Regions from separate parts of the Homo sapiens genome. Here all the other regions are linked to region 4. Evidence: fine-mapped expression QTL. A gene starts in region 4. Each other region holds a variant in brackets. All regions are shown on one strand. Distances are from middle to middle. Region 1 overlaps LOC105378806 (a long non-coding RNA gene). Region 2 overlaps ACADM (acyl-CoA dehydrogenase medium chain). Region 3 has its middle 19 kb from the start of ASB17. Region 4 holds the start of MSH4 (mutS homolog 4).

The links. PIP is the estimated chance that this variant, and not a neighbour inherited with it, causes the effect.
Region 1: its variant is the best candidate, but not a certain one, in a credible set for the expression of MSH4 in testis (GTEx, PIP 0.84).
Region 2: its variant is the best candidate, but not a certain one, in a credible set for the expression of MSH4 in sigmoid colon (GTEx, PIP 0.74).
Region 3: its variant is the best candidate, but not a certain one, in a credible set for the expression of MSH4 in prefrontal cortex (GTEx, PIP 0.69).

What each region holds. Positions count from the first base shown.
Region 1 is chr1:75,980,084-75,985,237 of GRCh38, forward strand. The region is part of intron 2 of LOC105378806 (a long non-coding RNA gene); the gene reads right to left. Among named protein-coding and RNA genes, the nearest start is that of ASB17, 50 kb to the left of the region's middle. RefSeq lists an enhancer at 1,621-1,680. The variant C/T (reference allele first, on the strand shown) is at 2,128.
Region 2 is chr1:75,736,742-75,741,895 of GRCh38, forward strand. ACADM (acyl-CoA dehydrogenase medium chain) reads left to right here. Exons shown (of 12, transcript NM_000016.6): 7 at 3,239-3,369. Among named protein-coding and RNA genes, the nearest start is that of ACADM, 15 kb to the left of the region's middle. The variant G/C (reference allele first, on the strand shown) is at 2,076.
Region 3 is chr1:75,949,032-75,954,185 of GRCh38, forward strand. No RefSeq gene overlaps it. Among named protein-coding and RNA genes, the nearest start is that of ASB17, 19 kb to the left of the region's middle. The variant G/A (reference allele first, on the strand shown) is at 2,724.
Region 4 is chr1:75,794,033-75,799,186 of GRCh38, forward strand. It overlaps MSH4 (mutS homolog 4), which reads left to right and starts at 2,850. Exons shown (of 20, transcript NM_002440.4): 1 at 2,850-3,197. The coding sequence starts at 2,954. RABGGTB (Rab geranylgeranyltransferase subunit beta) reads left to right here. Exons shown (of 9, transcript NM_004582.4): 8 at 52-201; 9 at 478-1,054. The coding sequence ends at 618.

The DNA of each region.
Region 1 (5,154 bases), 190 kb after region 4:
GGTCGTGGGAGCCTATAGGTGGTATCCACCAGGAAAGAAGACAGCCAAGCAGCAGCTGCTGATGAGGGATGGCTGTGGAAATAGTGAGGTAGGGGAACCTTCCAATGAAACTCAGCAGCAAAGACCCATAGTCAGAAATAGGTTAATAACAGGCGGCTACTGAAAAATACGGGTCAGAGAGTTCAGAGGATGAGTCAAAAAACGGGTTCCAGGAACCTAGAATAAGAGGAGGGAGTGAAACTGGAAAGATACCCGCTTGCCTATGGGGGCCAACCAAGGGTTCCCCGACTTTGGTCTTTCCTCCTTTGTGTATCAGACTCTGCCTGTGATTTCTAAGGGTACATGGGCTCAGCCTCTTGCACCCTGAGGGACTCATACAGCTGATAAACAGAAAATCACTTTATTGAAAACAAATATATTTGTTTCAGGTAGTATTCTGTTCCATTCCAGTCCAAAATACTAATATACTGACTGTTAATGACCAAAGTAATGTATTATTATTATTTTATTTATTTATTTATTTATTTATTTATTTATTTATTTATTTATTTCTGAGACGGAGTCTTGCTCTTTCACCCAGGCCGGAGTGCAGTGGCGCTATCTCGGCTCACTGCAAGCTCCGCCTCCCGGGTTCACGCCATTCTCCTGCCTCAGCCTCCCGAGTAGCTGGGACTACAGGCGCCCGCCACGACACCCGGCTAATTTTTTGTATTTTTAGTAGAGACGGGGTTTCACTGTGTTAGCCAGGATGGTCTCCATCTCCTGACCTCGTGATCCGCCCTCCTCGGCCTCCCAAAGTGCTGGGATTACAGGCGTGAGCCACCGCGCCTGGCATATTATTTATGTAAACAGTATAGGCACAAGAACAATTAAAATTTAAAATTAGGTAATACATGTTATTGGGTAACCACTGTAGACCAGCTCCAGGTAAGATAATGGATCAAACCAGCCCTCTCCCAATAGATATTACATAGTATTATTGGACTCCCCAGGAAACTTGCTGCTCTTTTTCTCCTTCTGTACAGCTCCATACCTTTCACAAGCGGGAGGAGTTTTAAGTCATGTATTAGGTACATGACTCACATGTCTTGTCTTTTGCATGAGATTTTTGAATACTCCTTGTATAACCATGGTTACACTGATCAAGCTCAGTCCCCTTCTCTGTCTCTTCTTCCCTTCCCTCTTGATCTCTCTCACTTGCCCGTCCTGCTATCTCCTTCTGCCAGCATCCACCTTATCTGCCCCTCTTACTTTTCTTGCATTTCTCTTCTTGTTGTTTTCCTGTTTCTCTGATTGACTGATAACTAGTTTCTGTTTGCTTGCTGGACTTTAGAGTTCATTCACATCCTGTGTGTGTCTCTCTCTGTTTTTGTTTCTTTGACGAGAAAAGCAGACCCTTAAGTCTCCAAGGAATTGGAGCTATAGAGGTTAGAACTCTCACTTCGGCCTGAGGACAGCTTACCCTTTCGTTCACCTTTTGTAGGGGATAGGGATCTCCCTCTTTCCTACGGTTTTGGTGGCCTTTGGCTGGAAGTTTGGAGAATTAGGCTACAGCTATCAAATTAGTTATGTTTTGAGCTGTTTTGGCTCATCATTCTTATGTGTGCACCAGCCCCAATGCCCTGTCAACAGGTGAAGCCATGGAGTCAGTAAGAGACCAGGGTGTAGGTGTCTGAGAATTATTCCAACCAGCTGGGCCAATGAGACACATAGTTTGTATAAGAATAAACAAAAGAGACAAAAATAGCTTGAGAAAGACTAGGCAGAACTGTGAAGTTACTATAGCAAGAATCTATATAGAAAGAGAAAGGAATTTTACTTTGAAGATATTTTGTGGCCATCTGAGCAGAAGCTGCTCACGTATTCCTTCCATTTGTGAACTAGAAGTGACCTTAATGACAGTTGATAGGAACAGCTCCTTATTCACAGGAATTAAATAAAGGGAAGCTGTAAGTGTTCCAAGTGCAAGCGTGTGGCTCAAATAAGCCCAGGTCTTAGCTGCCTGTGTGTTGAATGAGGTTGTATTAATATTAATTCCCAAATCTCAGTGGTTCCACACCATGCTGGATGCTTCCTTCTGCTCCTCTTCCCCTTGGACCTCAGACTCCAGGTTCTTCAGCCTTTGGA[C/T]TCTGGGACTTGCACCAATGGCTTGCTGGGGGCTCTTGGGCCTTTGGCCATGGACTGAAGGCTGCACTATCAACTTCCCTAGTTTTAAGTCTTTCTGACTTTCACTGAGCCACTACTGGCTTCTCTTCCCCAGCTTGCAGACAGCCTATCGTGGGACTTGACCTTGTGATTGTGTGAGCCAATTCTCCCTAATAAACTCCCTTCCATATATACATATATTTTATTAGTTTTGCCCCTCTGGAGAACCCTGACTAATACAATGAGAATCTCCCTGCCTGGGCAGAACATTGGGCAGGCTTTTTGTATGAGTGGAGCCACTGCTTACTTCCATGGTCAAGCAGGCCTGGTCACTACACTTCTCCAAAATGGGCAGAGGTGAGTATCATTGTGCCTGGGCAGGGTAACTGGGGAGGTCTCTGAGGCTGGGTATGGAGACTAGCTGTCTAGTCACTCAAGCTAGATTAACTTCTTGTTATGCTTCTGAAGGTCACCAGTTCAGCTTTGCAGATAGGCTATGAAGTTGATGGATATCTCTGATTGGGCACCCCAGCTGGTAGGAACACAGGTATTACCAAGATCTGCATGCTAGTCACTATGACCTCTACTTCCTTTCTTTGTTCCTACTTAACCCTGGGTGGTCTAGCCATTATTGCTACCTACAGTGTATCCCATAAGGTGAGACCAGAATGAATTTCCTGGAATACATCTCAGAATGCTAGGAAAGCTGGATGACTGCCTCTAGTCCTCTTTTCTCCCTGTATAAACTGTGGGCCCAAGCCATCTTCTCAGTCTGGTGTTGTGCAGGAGGAGGGAAAGGGGTGTCATGCTCAATTTGAGGCCATTCTTTTTAAACTTTGATTTCAGTTTTCATGCAGTTATGTGAAACATGGAATCTCAGGCTTGTATTCAAGTATTGGGGTTTTCAAAAAAGTATTCTGATCTGTCGGTAGTTGCTAGTTAAACATTGGGTGGGGAAGCAATGGAGCCTAAGACCTATTCTGTTTCTTGCTGGTGTCACTAAGGAGACTTTAAATGACTTGCACTGACTATACCCTCTTCTCAGGATGTACATGAGAAAAGAATGTAATTATTTTCAAAGAATGACAAGAAAATTATATTTCTTATTTCCAATCTTTATTATTTCTTTTCCTACCATCAGCTTAGAAGTCCTTCCTTCATAAGAACAAAACAAACCAAAAAAAGAGCTTAACTTCAATCATGACATTTTTTGCAGCTGCAGCTCCTGTTCCACTTCCTTTCTTGTACTGCTGAACATCCAGATAGAGGCATTGACATGCATGGTTTCCAACTGATCACTTCCTACTCCCTTAAGGACCTCCTGTCAGGCAGGTATGGTGGTAATGAATTCCCTTAGCATTTCTTTTCCTTAAAAGGATTTTATTTCTCCTTCACTTATGAAGTTTAATTTGGCTGGATATGAAATTCTTGGTTGGAATTTATTTTCTTTAAAGATGCTGAATATAGGCCAGGCGTGGTGGCTCATGCCTGTAATCCCAGCACTTTAGGAGGCCGAGGCAGGCAGATCACGAGGTCAGGAGATGGAGACCATCCTAGCTAACACGGTGAAACCCCATCTCTACTAAAAATACAAAAAATTAGCTGGGCATGGTGGCAGGCACCTGTAGTCCCAGCTACTCAGGAGGCTGAGGCAGGAGAATGGCATGAACACAGGAGGCAGAGCTTGCGGTGAGCCGAGATTGCGCAACTGCACTCCAGCCTGGGAGACAGAGTGAGACTCCGTCAAAAAAAAAAAGATGCTGAATATAGGCTTCCAATCTCTTCTGGCTTGTGGAGTTTACTCTGAATAGTCAGCTGTCAGTCTGATGGAGCAGGTGACCTGCTCCTTCTCTTTAGCTGCCCTTAACATTTTTTTCTTTCATTTCCACCTTGGAGAATCTGATGACTTTGTATCTTGTGGATGGCCGTCTTGTTTAGTATGTCACAGGGATTCTCTGAGTTTCTTGGATTTGAATGTCAATCTCTCTAGTGAGGTTGCGGAAATTTTCATGGATAATACTTTCAAATATGCTTTCCAAGTTGCTTGTTCGCTCTTCCTCTCTTTCAAGTGTACCAATTTGTAGATTTGTTCTCTTTAAATAATCCCATATTTCTCAGAGGTTTTGTTCATTCATTATTCCTTTTTCTTTATTTTTGTCTGACTGAGTTGATGTGAAAACTGATCTTTGAGCTCTCAGATTCTTTCTTCAGCTTGGTTTATTCTGCCATTAATACTTCTGATTGTATTATGAAAATCTTATAGTGAGTTTTTCAGCTCTATCAGATCAGTTTGGTACTTTCTTTAAAATGGCTCTTTCATCTTTTAGCTCTTGTAATGTTTTACTGGATTCCTTAGATTTCTTGGATTGGTTTTCACCTTTCTCCTGAATCTCATGATCTTCATTGCCATTCTGTATGGAATTCTATGTCTGTCATTTCAGCCATTTCAACCTGGTTAAGAACCATTCCTGGGGAGCTAGCATGGTTATTTGGAAGTAAGAAGACACTGTGGCTTTTAGAGTCACCAGAGCTCTTTATATTCTCTGATGCTCTTAAGGGTTTGACTGTGGTGTAAGTTGGATTCAGTTGATTGGCTTTATTTCTGGACAATTTCAGGGGGCCAAGACTCAGCTCAGGACTCCAGTGCTGCATGCGCTAACTTTGGGAAGTTGGGACCAGGCCCATGGCTTTGTTCTCTGGCCACTTGAGGTTAAGCACCTGCTCTGCTTGAGGGGCTGAGGTATTCCTGGTCCACTGCCAACAACAGTCCAATGGGCAGGGGTGGGGGGTGCTGGCAAAAGCACTTGATTGGGATGGCAAGGTCTGCTCATGTGCATGCACTGCTAAGGCAACTGGGGGAGGTTACAGATAGGTGCATGCCGGGGTTGCGGGGGGCACTGTCTGCAGGAGCTCTCTGATGGTTTGTGGAGTCTACCAGTGAAGAAGCTATGGTAGTGGCTGCTGTGAAGTGTCCTGGTTGGGCATTGACACTGTGTTGCAAGCAGGTAT
Region 2 (5,154 bases), 57 kb before region 4:
TCTAATTATAAAATACTGAGTATAGAAAATTTAGAAATGTTTTAAGTAGAACAAAAATATCTGTAATCCCTCAGATATGGAGTTAATTAGTATTACTTCCTTATTGTAGTGCCTACCACATTTTTAAATATGTAATTGTGTTTTTAACAGTTAGCCCCCATTATATACATGTAGTTTTATGTACATCTTTATTTAACAACATGAACATTTTCTTATGCCTTCCTTCTTTTTACATGCTGTAACAATACTGCATAATTTGCTATCTAATGGATATGCTATAAATTGTTTCACTTTTCTGTACTGTTGAATGTTTAAACTCCTTGGGTTTTTACTTTGGAAAATAATGTTATGGTAAAAAATAATACAGAAAAAAAATAAATAAAAATGATCAAATAAGAAGCCAAGAACAGGCCAGGCATGGTGGCTCATGCCTGTAATCTTAACACTTTGGGAAGCCAAGGCAGGAGGATCGCTTGAGGCCAGGAGTTCAAGACCAGCCTGGACAACGTTGAGAGACTGCCACCACACACACACACAAATATATATATATATATATATATATATATATATATATATATATATATATGAAACCAAAAAGAAGAAAAGAAGACAAAAACAACTCTGAGGAACCAGTAGTGACAAGCCATTTTGTATAGAAAAAAACAGGCTCATTTACTTCACAGGCTCTAAAAACTTCACTGTATTATGAAACAGACAGATGTCTAATAGCATATTTCAGGGAAAAAAATACCTTAAAGGTGGTTAAAACAAAATTTTGGTACTTAAAAGGGGCATCTTTTATGGACAACTCCTTAATTTGTCATGATGCTGAATACATCAAATCTCCAGGTAGCAGAGTAATCTAGTTCAGTTAACTTGAGTGACACCTGAATCCCCTCTACAGAATCCCTGTCAAAAGACCATCTGGCTGACATGTTTTTATACCTCAGGTGCCTGGGAATCAACACCTTCTGAAACAGCATCATTTGCGAGCATCTGTTATCATTAGAAAAATATTTTGGATTACATAATGCTTAAGCACAGAACCTGTCATTTTTTTTTTTATAATTTTACCAGTTCATACTGTAATAGGTGTTCAATAAATGTTAGAGTGATTTCACTGTACTTTTCTTTGGCTATATTGCCCTTCAGATGTTTGAGTATAGTTATATTTATTTATTTATTTATTTTTTGAGACGGAGTCTCGCTCTGTTGCCCAGGTCGGAGTGCAGTGGTGTGATCTTGGCCCACTGCAACCTCTGCCTCCCAGGTTCAAGCGATTCTCCTGCCTCAGCCTCCCAAGCAGCTGGGACTACAGGTGCGTGCCACCACGCCTGCCTAATTTTTTGTATGTTTAGTAGAGACAAGATTTCACTGTGTTAGCCAGGATGGTCTCTATCTCCTGACCTCATGATCTGCCCACCTTGGCCTCCCAATGTGCTGGAATTACAGGTGTGAGCCACCATGCCCAGCCAAGTATTGTTATTATTTTTTTTTTCTGAAATGGAGTCTCGCTCTGTTGCCTAGGCTGGAGTGCAGTGGCACCATCTCGGCTCACTGCAACCTCCACCTCCCAGGTTCAAGCAATTCTTCCTCAGCCTCCCAAGTAGCTGGGATTACAGGCGCCCGCCACCAAGCCTGGCTAAGTTTTTGTATTTTTAGTAGAGACAGGGTTTCACCATGTTGGCCAGGCTGGTCTCGAACTCCTAACCTCAGGTGACCCACCTGCCTCGGCCTCCCAAAGTGCTGGGATTACAAACCTGAAGCCTCAGCCACCACGCCCGGCCCTAAGTAATCATTTCTAGTGCCCCTATATATGCTTACTACTTTGAATTAAAATGTATATAGTTTCTTTCTTTTTTGTTGTATATTTTTAAAAAATAAATTGACATGGGTTCTCGGCATGTTGACCAGGCTGGTCTTGAACTCCTGGTCTCAAGCGATCCTCCCATCTCAGCCTCACAAAATGCTAGGATTACAGGTGGGGGGCCACCATGCTCGGCCCAGTTTCTTTCTTCTTTGGACTGTAAGTACCTTAAGGGCAAGTAACTTGTTTCTTTAGTATCCACAGTACC[G/C]GCCACTCTTGAATTAACTTGCACTAACACTTGCCTTCTACCACCCCCTTTTATCCATTACTGCTTGTGTCTTGTCACTCCTCTGTTTAAGAGCTCTAAGAGGCTCCCCTGTTTCTACCAGATAAAATTTTAAATTTGTAATGTGATATAAAAGATTCTCGTCGACCATTTCCTTCCTTTCTTTCCAGACTCATGTCTTACCATTCCCTTACATGCACAGAATTTACATACTGTGGAACTCTGGTACTTTCAGCATTAGAAACACTGGGTAACTCTGTTTCTTATCTTAGTGTCATAGCATATGCCATTACTTGTACCTGGAATGCATATTCTTCCTCTTTTTCCCTCCTCGCAAAGAAGCCATTTTCCTTTTTGAGACTTAATTTAAACATCCTCTGCCCTGGGAAACTAGTTTCTCAAGCCCCTTGTCTGACTTTCACACATAGAGTTGCAGTATAGTTATTTATCTTCACTGTTACATTGTGAAAATCTCTAGGACTGAATGTCTTTTACCTCTGGTTTCCCCATATCCTAATTTACATCGTGGTACATAGTAGATATTCAATACATGTTTGCATGAATGAATACATGTGAAATTGAATTTAATGAACTTGTTTAAAGCTATCTAACATTTTCACTTTTTATTAAATATATGATTTGTTGATATACCTATGCCTAATTTGAATTATATATTAAGTGTTTTTAGGCCAGGCACTGTGGCTCATACCTGTAGTCCCAGCACTTTGGGAGGCTGAGGCAGAGGATTGCCTGAGCCCAGGAGGTTGAGACCAGCCTAGGCAACACAGTGAGATGCCATGTCTACAAAAAATTTAAAATTAGCTGGGCATGGTGATGTGTGCTTGCAGTCTCAGCTATTATACACGGGAGGCTGAGGCGGGAGGATTTCCTGAGTCCAGGAAGCCAAGACTGCATTGAGCCTCTGCATTCCAGCCTGGGCAAGAGAGTGAGACCCTGTCTCTTACAAACAAAACAGAAAAGTTTTTACATTTGAGTGGTTTCTTTGATTTTGTAAGAACATTTTAATTTTAGATATTTAAAAATATTTAAAATACAGCTTAAAAAATAAAACAATCCTGTTTCCAAACAGTCAAAATTTAATCACTAACATTTAATTTCATTTCTCTTGTTTTTATATATTCAAGGCTTATTGTGTAACAGAACCTGGAGCAGGCTCTGATGTAGCTGGTATAAAGACCAAAGCAGAAAAGAAAGGAGATGAGTATATTATTAATGGTCAGAAGATGTGGATAACCAACGGAGGAAAAGCTAATTGGTATGTTGTTCAAAACATCTTTGTATATTTTTTCTTAATTGTTTTATCTTCAAATCTCTCTTTCTTTCTGTATATTTTTAAACCACTACAGTTAAGGTATGTTTGTGGAACTGGAAGGCCTAAAGGAGATTATAAACAGTTCAGTGATTTTCAAAAACTAATTTTAAGCCCCTGCACTGTTTTTTCAAATTAACTCTCAGAAGTTTAATGTGTAAAATAAAATACAAATGCGTGCTCTGTTTGAATCTGATTAGGAAGGCTAGCACTCTGTCTACTTGGCTTATTATCTCCACTCCTCATCTCCTATACCAGCCGCTCCTTGGAATCCCTAAAACCCTAAGGAAAAAGGAGAACCTTTGGTATAGTGCCTGTCTCCAGATGTCAGAAATAAACAGAGTCAGTCTTAAAACAGGTTATCTATTAGAGAAGACAGAATTTGACTTTAATAAAATCTGAAATTTTCTAATATATGGTCAAAAAATATGAAGTTCAACAAAGGATCAAAAATAATTTGTATAAATATAAAATACTAAAAAAAAACACTCGATTATTTGTTGATAAAAGATGAGGAAAGTTCAATAACTGTTAAGTTCAATAAGAATCAATAGTATGAGCCTTTAAAAAGCCAATGTAATTTTAAGCCAAAGTAATAGAAGTACAGCATCAAATAGAGAAAAAATGGTGACAGTTCTGGGCAACACATTTTAAAACATGTATTGAAAAACTTGACTAAATCTAGAAGCATGTAAGTATCTTGCATTAGGAGGAGCCTACAAAACATGTTCTGAAAAGCAAAGCCTTGGTTATTTTGGAAGAATCTTGAAGTTTTTCAAATATTATTACACAGAAAGATGATCAGGCTTATATGTTTACTTCAGGATGCCAGCTTAGAATTAATGAGTGAAAGTTAGAAAAATGTAGAATTTAGCTTAACATAAGGACAGGCTTTCTATCAGCAGTGCTGTTAAGTTGTCATGGGAAATACTGTATTTACCCATCACTACAAGTATATAGAGAGTTTCTAGAATAACTTTTTATTGATTGGAATAATGTACTAAATGACCTGTCTCTCTTTGTAAAAAATTCAGATTCAATATATTTGTGTGCCATATACTACAGTTTTCTAGCAAATAAAACATCATTTTTTTTCAGAGTGAGCCTACTAAAAAGTTACTTAGATTAAACATATCAGTCAATTCCTTATGAGCATCCTAAATATATTCAGTATTATGGAGTGCTATATCTTTACCTTTAACCAATTCCTGGTAATATCAGCAACTAATAAAAAGTGAAGAAACTATTAAAATTTAACAAGTTGAGAGAAATCTAACAATGCAGTTTGAAGTTTTCGTAATTTTAAAAACGGATTAGCCAGGTGCAATCACTCACGTCTACAATCCCAGCAGTTTTGGAGGCTGAGGCAGGAGGATTGCTTGAGCCCAGGGGTTCAAGACCAGCTTGGGCAACATAACGAGACCCCATCTTTACAAAATTAAAACAAAAAGAAAGAACTGATTACAACTGTTCACTGTTCATATAGTAAGGCAAATTAGGTAATATATGAAACCAGATAACAATTTTTACGATTTTGTTACTATTATTAAATAAAACTATAGAATGAGTGGTAATGTATTGGTTTTAACCAAAGAAAATAAGTTTGTGTTGTTTAGGGAAGAATATACCTTTTTAAAAGAATTTTTCGTGTACCAGGATATATAGAACATGAATTAGACAGATGCTTGGATATTTGCATTTTTTTCTTATGTTGCACTTCAAGATCTTTCT
Region 3 (5,154 bases), 150 kb after region 4:
CAATGTACTTTATGTTCTTAACTCCCACAATTTAGCCTAAATATTTGCCCTGGCATGCTTATACTGGTCCAAGCAAACATTAGGTCATATAGCCTGTTCCTCTTTCTTATTTGAAGGTGTTTTTACCTTTTTCAGCATTCCACAAGTTACTTCCTCCTTCCTTTGTTCTCCTCTGCCTTTGCCTCTTTTAAAAAGCTCCAAGTTGCTAGCCAGTCGGGACAAATACAGAATGTGAGGTCTTTTTCCAGCCAATGGAAACCGGACACAGCAGTAGGGTGGATGCGTCAGTTTATAAATGACCCTGTCTCCTTTGTTTGATGTACTCTCATGGCAAAACTGCTGGCGAGTATACCCTTTCTGCAGGAAGTAAAAATGGCCTTGCTGAGTAAATTAAATTTACGTTCAAGTGCTATTTCTTTACAGCACCAGGGAACAAGCATTTCAAACACTTAATCTCCTCAAATTCCTTTTACCAGAGAGCTCCTTCTTTTAAAACTTTTTTTTATGAGATGGCTTTACTTGCTTTCACAGATTTATACTTCTAGACTTTAAAAAACTGTTTTCTTGTCCTCATCAGATAATCATTAACTACAAATTTTCATTGTTGCCAACTAAAACAATTACTGAATTGTCTCTACATTTTTATCACATTAATTCATATATACACTGATATTATATCAAATTATATCACTTATTAGGTAGCTTTATAGGCTTTTTATTTTTTCAGAGAAAAGTTGGTATTATATAAGGGTAAAATTAGTAGGCTGTTATGTATCCGTGAACCATTATTCCCAATGTTAAATAATACTAAAATTATTTTCCTTTAGATGAAAAGAGATGACTTCAGTGACTTTTATAATTCAGTGTGAAGCTAGCTTGAAGCTAGCTTTAAATGCAACTCAATGTGATGTGCCTGCCTGAGGCAACTGACATTTCAGATTGTGATTCTTTTCACCCCCAAAGCAAGAAGGTCTGCTCTTTTCTGTAGTTAGAGCTATTTTAATGAAGTTAATTTAAGAGGTCAGAATCCAACTTGTGACTTCTCAGATTCTTTCATTTGCATTACAAATCATTTAAGGGAAAAAGGAGCAACTGACTAAAATATATTGGAGAAGGACTAGAGTAAAACATTATTAATGTGAACTGTTATTTTTAAAAATCTGATCATCTAGACAGAGGTAATGAAAGCCATCGGACGAAATGCTTTACAATGGAAATCAGTAAGAGTTCATTGGGGAGATTAAACTATTCACTAGAACAGAATTTTTAATCACTCTCAGTATCTGAGAATACCAGTTACATAATGCCCAAATCACATTATGAACAATGCCTTCCTGTTTTTCAGGCCAGGAGGAAAAAGAAGTGAGTCTTTATCATTTGGTTTTGTGCATCATTCTGTTGGTTAGCATAACTACGTGAATAGATGCTGGAAACCAAATACAGTAAGTCTTCATTTCATGTCCTTGATAAGGCTCTTGGAAACCTATGCAACTTTAGAAGAAACTACTTATAACAAAACCAATTTTACCATAGACTGATATATATATATATAAAGAGTTACGTTTCTAAGACACATTTCCGATCACAAAAACATACAATTTTTTTATGTTTTGATCTCCTGGGCTCAAGTGATCCTCCCAACTCAGCCTCCTAAGTAACCAAGATTACAGTTGTGCACCACCATGCCCAGCTAATTTTTAACTTTTTCTTTTTTGTAGAGATGGGGTCTCTCTCTGTTTTCCAGGCTAATCTCAAACTCCTGGCCTCCCAAAGTGCTGGGATTACAGGCATGGGCCAGCATATCGAGCCACTAAACTTTTAAATAAAGACACAAAACACTTTTAATATTAAGCATGGAAATACATGTGAACTATTCATACATTTAGGATTAATAAACACAAGCAAGATAATTATTTACCCAGTTTTTGGTGAATCAGTAAGTGATGGCAGTCATGGTTATTAAATCAAGAAACATCTCCTACTATCATGCAGTTCAAAAACTAACTGACAAACAGGGTGGGTGCTCTGTGCACTTTCATAGCTCATCATTTATTGTCATATGTCGGTATGATTACCACCTACTTTATGAATTTTTATTTGACAATAATTTGTATTCATTCATTCATTTTTCAACTTGCTTATTAGAGTTCAGGGTCTTGGGTGGCCAGAGCCTATCCTGGCAGCTCAGGGCACAAGGTGGGAGCCAATCCTGACAGGATGTCTTTCCATCACAGGGCGCACTTACCCCCACACTCATTCAGACTGACATCATTTAAATGCACCAATTCCACACACATGCACAGCTTTGGGATGTGGGAAGAAATTAGAGTGCCCAGAGAATACCCATGCAAACATGGGGAGAATGTGCAAACTTCACACAGACAGTGGCCCCAGCTTGGAATTGATTTTTTTTCTCATCAGTGTTATAACAAAATGATGTTGAATGAACCATTATTCAAAGGTCTGCCATACCAATATTTATTGACTATCTAGGCAGTGTCTTGCAGAGGATATAAAGTAAAATCAATGTGTGGTATACTTTCTTAAAGCTAATTTTAGTTTAAAAATAAAATATTTTGTCAAATGAAAAGATTATTTTGTTGTGGAATATCACTGAATTTTGTCAGTTGTCATTTCAGTGCTTAAATGGGTATTGATCATGTATGTGAATTTCTAACAATTTTCTTGTACACAAATGGAGGAACAAAAGCTTACTCTCTGTT[G/A]CAAAACAGCAAGTAAGCAAACAAAACCACAAGCCAATAACTAACAGACATGCATATCTGCAGCTCCTGTCAGCTCCCTGATAAGATGAAAAGGAGTGAGAGATTTTTAGTGGTAGAGGTTTTTTTGTTTTGTTTTGTTTTGTTTTGTTTTGTTTTGTTTTGTTTTTATCTACTTAAGTTTGGGTAAGTCTATAATACTATGGGTATGTATTCATGGACAAATGATCATTCTCTTGATAATGAAAAGGACTGAATATCAGCTGTGGAGGGAAATAGAAAGACAACAATGGACCCAAGCCACGCAAGTTTTAAGTTTGTAAATACTGTACATCTCTTTTCTTGTTCCAGAATTTCATTACATTTGTATTTCTCTGGGAGGTGGTATACAATTTTATAATCAAGAGGGACAAGATAGAATCTTTTCTGCCTCCTGCTGTGGTTGCTCAGTTGTGGTTTTAATTGTTGCACCAGCAGGAAAATATATGGCTTTAATTCTAAAGGATTAAGAAGACTTGAGCAATATATGTATGCAGAAGATAGAGGCTGGTGCTCTTACTTAGGAAAACTAGTCAACCTTAACACACTCAGTAAGCAAGTTAATGAACTCCATTGGTAAAAGATAAATGAAAAGTGACATTTCTTTCCTTCTTTACTATATGGTTAGTTATTTTTATTATCCTATATAATAGGCATGATTTATATAAATAGCATTAGTCTCTAATAGTGAAATGAGCATTGTATATAGAATGAGATGAACTGGGTTTAAACATAACACTATGGTTAATTAAACGTATAATTGTATCCAAAATTACACATTTAAACTCCCTGGGTCTTTAGTTTTCTCTTTTGGAAAGTGAATATATTATAGCACATAATTTCTAAATTCGCCAGCTCATCTCTAAATTATCTAATATCTAGTCCGGATTCAACTTTCCCCAAGTGTCCTAAGATGTGTCTTTAGAGTTTTTGTAAAAATATAAAACCAATAGAAATTCACAAATTGCATTTAATTTTTTGTCTTTTTGGATTTTGAAACAGTTTTCAAACTCCTCTCATAATATTGACTCCATGATGATTATGGAATATCCTACATTCTGAATTTGTCTAATTGTTTCCTCATACTGAGATTTAACTTCTTTCTTTATCTGTTATACTTTCTTTCTTCTTTCTTTTTTTATTTTGTTTTTTGAGACGGAGTCTCACTCTGTCGCCCAGGCTGCTGTCACCCAGGCTGGAGTGCAGTGGCAGCAATTATGGCTCATTACAACCTCTGCCCCTCGGGTTCAAGTGATCCTCCTGTTCCCGGACCAAACTGAGGGTTGGGCTGCTATTTCTTGCGGCCCAATAACAAGATGCAGATGAACTGGGGAGGAAGAGAGTTTTTATTTCTGTAACCAGCTACAGGGAGAAGGCCTGGAAATTATCACCAGACCAACTGAAAATTACAAAGTTTTCCAGAGCTTATATACCTTATAAGCTATATGTCTACATGTAAGTGTGCATTAAATCTAAAGACATAAGTGATTAACTTCTTTTAATCTATCTATAACTAAGGTCTGGGTCCTGAAGACCTTCTTCTGGAGCCTCTGTAAGTTTACTTAATCTAAATGGGTCTAGGTGCTGGGGTGATTACCTTTATCTTGTCTCCTGCTAAATCATAAAGGTTTGGGACATTCCTTTAGACCCCAATAAACTTGTTTGTGGAGGCCTGGGGAGTTTCTTCAGACCCCCAATAAAACTTCTTTAATCCTAAAAGGGTTCTGTCAGGAATTCCTTTGTTATCTTGTCATGCTTCAAGGCCCAGGAAAAGCCTAAGCAAAACTCTTGGCGGGCTCTTTGTTACATTCCAGTTTGTAAAAGGGCACTGGCTCAATCACCTTTTAATGTTTAACTTAGCTACTCAGTCAGTGCTGGGACAGTTGCAATGGAAGCCTGAATTAATGAGAACTGGCCTGCCACACTCCGTCCTCAGCCTCCCAGGTAGCTGGGACTACAGGCATGCATCACCACTTCTGGCTGATGTTTGTATTTTTAGTAGAGATGGGGTTTCACAATGTTGGCCAGGCTGGTCTTGAACTCCTGACCTGAAGTGATCTGCCCGCCTCGGCGTCCCAAAGTGCTGGGATTACAGGCGTGAGACACCATGCCTGGCGTTATCTGTTATATTTTTTGTAATCTAACTTCATTAAATTCAGTGTAGCATTTTTTTACAAGATTACTTCATAGGTTATATTGAAGTATTATTTTGCATCATACCAGAAGTTACATGACATCATACTGTCCCAGCATTAGTGAAGCAAAGTTTGATCCTTCTTTAAGGTAGTGACTACCAGATCACTCCATTTTTTTTCCATCCAACTCATATATTTTATACTTCCTTGACTTTCAATGTCATTTCAGGACATTTTATTACTGTACTCTTGGATTTCCT
Region 4 (5,154 bases):
AATTAGGGAAATAAAAGAGAATGAAATTGTGGCAACTTTTTTCCCTCCTAGTTACCAGATGTATGCTACTCATGGTGGGTCCTGGCTTCCCTAAAGATAATTGGAAGACTTCATTGGATTGATAGAGAGAAACTGCGTAATTTCATTTTAGCATGTCAAGATGAAGAAACGGGGGGATTTGCAGACAGGCCAGGAGATATGGCAAGTAATATTTCTGACATATTTCTATAAATTATTTCAGCGTTTGCATTACTTCATGGTTCCATGGATTTCCAGGGTGGCATTCCGAGTGTTGCTTTGAAAGCAGTTTTTTTTTCTATTTATTGTAGAGTGTATGAAGGATATAGAACAATCTTACAGAAATTTCTTGTCGCTTGTTGCTAACAAAATTAGTATATGGTAAAGGTCAGGTATTCATAATTTGAAGTTAAAGAAGTTTTCATTTTGTGATCTGTATATAAATTCTTTTTTAAATAGGTGGATCCTTTTCATACCTTATTTGGAATTGCTGGATTGTCACTTTTGGGAGAAGAACAGATTAAACCTGTTAATCCTGTCTTTTGCATGCCTGAAGAAGTGCTTCAGAGAGTGAATGTTCAGCCTGAGCTAGTGAGCTAGATTCATTGAATTGAAAGTTGCATAGTATAGTTTTGCCATTTTAACATTTCTGTATTTGAAGTGCTTATCGAATCTAAAAGTGACTACTGTTAATATTTTGTATATTGTGTTAAATTAATTTTAATAAATTATATAATTATACATATTGTAAAATAAAGACCGGTATTTTATTTTCTGCTTTTTATTCTGAAGTCCTGTTATTCTGACTACAGTTCTTTGTGTATACTTCTGTGTCTGTTATGTTCAATAACTGAGCTAACATAAAATAACTCTAGGTTTCTACTTGATTTTTCCCCCATGTATACCTTTCATCTGTTCTATAGCAAGTTGATGTAAATTGGTTTGTCAACAAGAATGTTAACTGATGAAAGTGGATAGAACCCATACATGAATTAAATGATGCACAAAATAAATGGCTGTTGAAATTTGGAAATGATTGATAGGTTTGAATATGGTTATTCTGAATTGGTCACAGACTTAGGTTAAATGGCAATCTACCATCTTAAAATGGGGTTGTGATTCGGACTGTCCTTTTTTTTTTTTTTTTTTTTTTTTTTTTTAGCATTTTATATATCAGAATTACCCAAAGAAGGAGTTGTCTTCAAATAAGGAAACACTAACGGGTAAGTTGATGGTCACCACAGTATTTTTTTGCACCTGTCTTTTTCTTAAAAAGCTAAAATGGGTACAATCACTCTTTTTTATTTTTTTGTGACAGAATCTCTGTTGCCCAGGCTGGAGCGCAGCAGCACGATCTCAGCTTAACTGCAACCTCCGTCTGCCGGGTTTAAGCAATTCAGCCGCAGCCTCTCGAGTAGCTGGGACTACAGCCGCACACCACCATGCCCGGCTAATTTTTATGTTACTTTAGTACAGACAGGGTTTCACCATGCTGAGGAGCTGGAGACCAGCCTGACCTTGTGATCCACCCACCTCGGCCTCCCAAAGTGCTGGGATTACAGGCGTGAGCCACCACGCCTGGCCTAAAATGAGTACAATCACTCTAGGGGTTTACAGTTTTGGTGAAAGTGAGGTATTCTCTATTTTTAAATTTTATTTTTTAGAGACAGGGTCTTCCTTTCTTCCCCAGGCTGGGGCATAGTAGTGCAATCACAGCTCACTGTAACCTTAAACTCCTGGGCTCAAGCAGTCCTTCCACCTCAGCCTCCTGAGTACCAGGGTCTACAGGTACCTGCCACCATGCCCACTATGCCCAGCTGATTTCTTAATTTTGGGGACAGGCACTGTCTTCCCCAGGCTGGTCTCCGGAGGTGAAGTAATCCTCTGGCCTCAGTCTCCCAAAGTACTGGGATTACAGGGAGGAGCCATCGTGCCCGATCTGAAAATAAGGTTTTTTGATGGAAATTGAGATTTTTCTCAAGTATGTTTGGAATGCCCTGTGCAATAATCATTCCAAGAACAGAGATGTTCTTAAGGACTGTTGTCACTGCATGTGGGTAAACCGCTGTGCATAACTGGTTTATTGAGATACTCAACAGTGGCAGGATTTCAGTAGTGGTGTAAATTAATGTCTTCTAATAGCTTCTGTATGGCAGTATCCAGATAATTTCGTCATGTTTAATCCATGGATCTCTGGTAAGTTGGTACTATTGGCCTTATTTAAGGAATTTTCTAAAGGTCACCACTGCAAAGCTGGAGTTTGAACTTCTAGTGTGCCATTAACTGATTTATATGTTAGAAACCACAGTACTAGAAATTGGTAGATGGGGAATTGTTAACTGAGAGATCTTACCCAGTCAGTCTTTCCCTGTTTCCTACTCTACTATGCACACAGCCATGTGCATACTATCTTTTGATAATATAACTATCTTTCCTATATTTGGTCACAAGATCAACCTTAGGTGGGTTATGCTGTGTGAGCATTACACGTTCTCATTGTGTCAAAGGCACTGGGTGTACTGTGTTGGGTGGTTTCTACATTTAAAGATAAGCTAGTGTGCTTGGACGTGTGGGAAATGCATGTAACATTTGCAATAAGGGAGATTGGGTGCTGTGAGAATAATGGGGCTAACAAATCGGGTGGTCATTGATGGGCCTTGCAGAGTTCTGGTCAGTCTGATACCTGCAGGCTGAGGATGTTCCAGTGAGGTTCATGTGGAAAGTGATGGGTTTGGGAATGGCTGGAAGCAGGGTCATAGACCTGAAGTACGTGAATCCATGTGGAAAGCTGAGCCTGCCTGCGCCTGCGCAGTGCAGCTTAGTGCGTCGGCGCGCAGTTCTCCCGCCCGTTTCAGCGGCGCAGCTTCTGTAGTTGGGCTACTGGAGGGGTCGCTCAGAAACCTCATACTTCTCGGGTCAGGGAAGGTTTGGGAGGATGCTGAGGCCTGAGATCTCATCAACCTCGCCTTCTGCCCCGGCGGTTTCCCCGTCGTCGGGAGAAACCCGCTCACCTCAGGGTCCCCGCTACAATTTCGGACTCCAGGAGACTCCACAGAGCCGCCCTTCGGTCCAGGTGGTCTCTGCATCCACCTGTCCTGGCACGTCAGGAGCTGCGGGCGACCGGAGCAGCAGCAGCAGCAGCCTTCCCTGCCCCGCGCCAAACTCCCGGCCAGCTCAAGGCAAGGAGTGATTGGGTGGAGGAGTCTCCTTGAGGCTAGAGGCCGGCAGTTCATGGAGGCTCGGGGGCACGTGGGTGGTGGTTACCACAGTGAAGTTGTGATTTGGTTGGGGCGTGAGATCTGAGTGCCCTGGGAATTTGGTGAGTCTGGGTGATTAGAAGCCTTGACTTTTCAAATTGGTTCTATTGCAAGACCTTGACTGTGGATGGCTCAGTTCTGAGAAAGGCTGAAGTATCCCATATAACGTCCCTCACAGTGTCTGACAAATGACAGTTTGTGCGTGAGTTTGCTGATAGAAGTTGTGAGCTGATCTTTGGCTGCTGAATTTAATTCTCCAAATCCTGCTAAGGTGGGATAAAATAGATTAAATTGAACATTTCATCTAATTCAGGGAAAATAATATGTTTAGTATTAAAAGAGTGGGCTGGGCGGTGGCTGACGCCTGTAATCCCAGCACTTTGGGAAACCAGGGTGGGCGGATCACTTGAGGCCGGGAGTTCCACACCAGCCTGGCCAACATGGTGAACCTCCCACCCCCATCCCCTATCTCTACTAAAAGTACAAAAATTATCTGGGTGTGGTGGCACGTGACTGTGGTCCCAGCTACTCAGGAGGTTGAGGTGGGAGGATGGCGAGTCCGGGAGGTCGAGGCTGCCGTGAGCTGAGATTGCGCCACTGCATTTCAGCCTGGGTGACACAGTGAGACCCTGACTCAAAACAAACAAACAAAAAAGATGCATGTCCTTCAAATCATTTATTATTTTGTTAGTCTCTATTCATGACAAAGCATCACCATTTTTCACACACGATTGCAACACAATGGTAAAGTAACAAATACCAAATCCAATGGTCATTTTTCAGTTCATCTCATGTGACCTTTCTGCTGTATTTAATGTTCTTAATTTCTTTATTTTTAGAAACAGAGTCTCGCTATGCTGCCCATGCTGGTCTCAAACTCCTGGTCTCAAGTGCTCCTGCCTCGGTCTGCCCAAGCATTGGGATTACAGGCATGAGCCACTGCTGCCTGGCCTATGTTTAATGTTCTTGACTGGTCTTCTCTTAAACTCTTTTAATTTGGCTTCCTTGATTCCACTTGCCCCTGTTTTTCTGCTACCTCCCAGAGAATTGCTGTGCCCACCTTTGTTCCCAAATTATGGGCATGTCATTAAAGCTTTTTTTCCTAGGCCACTTCTACCTAGATGTGACTATCTCCACAGCTCAGATCTCATCTACACTCCAGACTTACTTCAGACTGTCTTCTGAAGTTTTTATTGATGGACTAATGGATACCTCAGGCTGACTATATGATTAATTAAATTCCTCTCTGCACTTTTTTTTTTTTTTTGAGACAGAGTCTTGCTCTGTTGCCCAGGCTGGAGTGCAGTGGCATGGTCATGACTCACTGCAGCCTCAAATTCCTGGGCTCAAGCGATCCTCCCACCTCAGCCTCCCGAGTAGCTGGGACCAAGGCATGTGCCCCTACAGATGGCTAATTTAAAAAATTTTTTTGTAGAGACAGTGTTTTCCTACGTTGCCCAGCCTGGTCTCGAACTTCTAGGCTCAAGCGATCCTCCTACCTCAGCCTCCCAAAATGCTGGGATTACAGGTGTGAGCCACTGCACCTAGCCCTCAAACTCTTAAGTGTTCTTCCATCCTTGTAGCTTACTTACTGTACCACCAGAGTTATGTGGAAAATGATCTTATCATGTCCCTTGCCACTTAAATCAGTAGACCTGTATCTGCAGGTAAAAGATCAAACTCTCTAGAAGGATAGCCAAAGCAATTGGGATCGGTTTCTAATCTTTACAGATTTATCCCTCATCATTTAATATTTACCCTGCTTTCTAACAAAACTGAGCTACTTGCAATTCCTTTAAAGCAACATGAATGTTCACATTGTCAGTCTAATCCCTCTCTTCATCAGATGCTTGGTCACCCACTTATTTATCAGTAATGA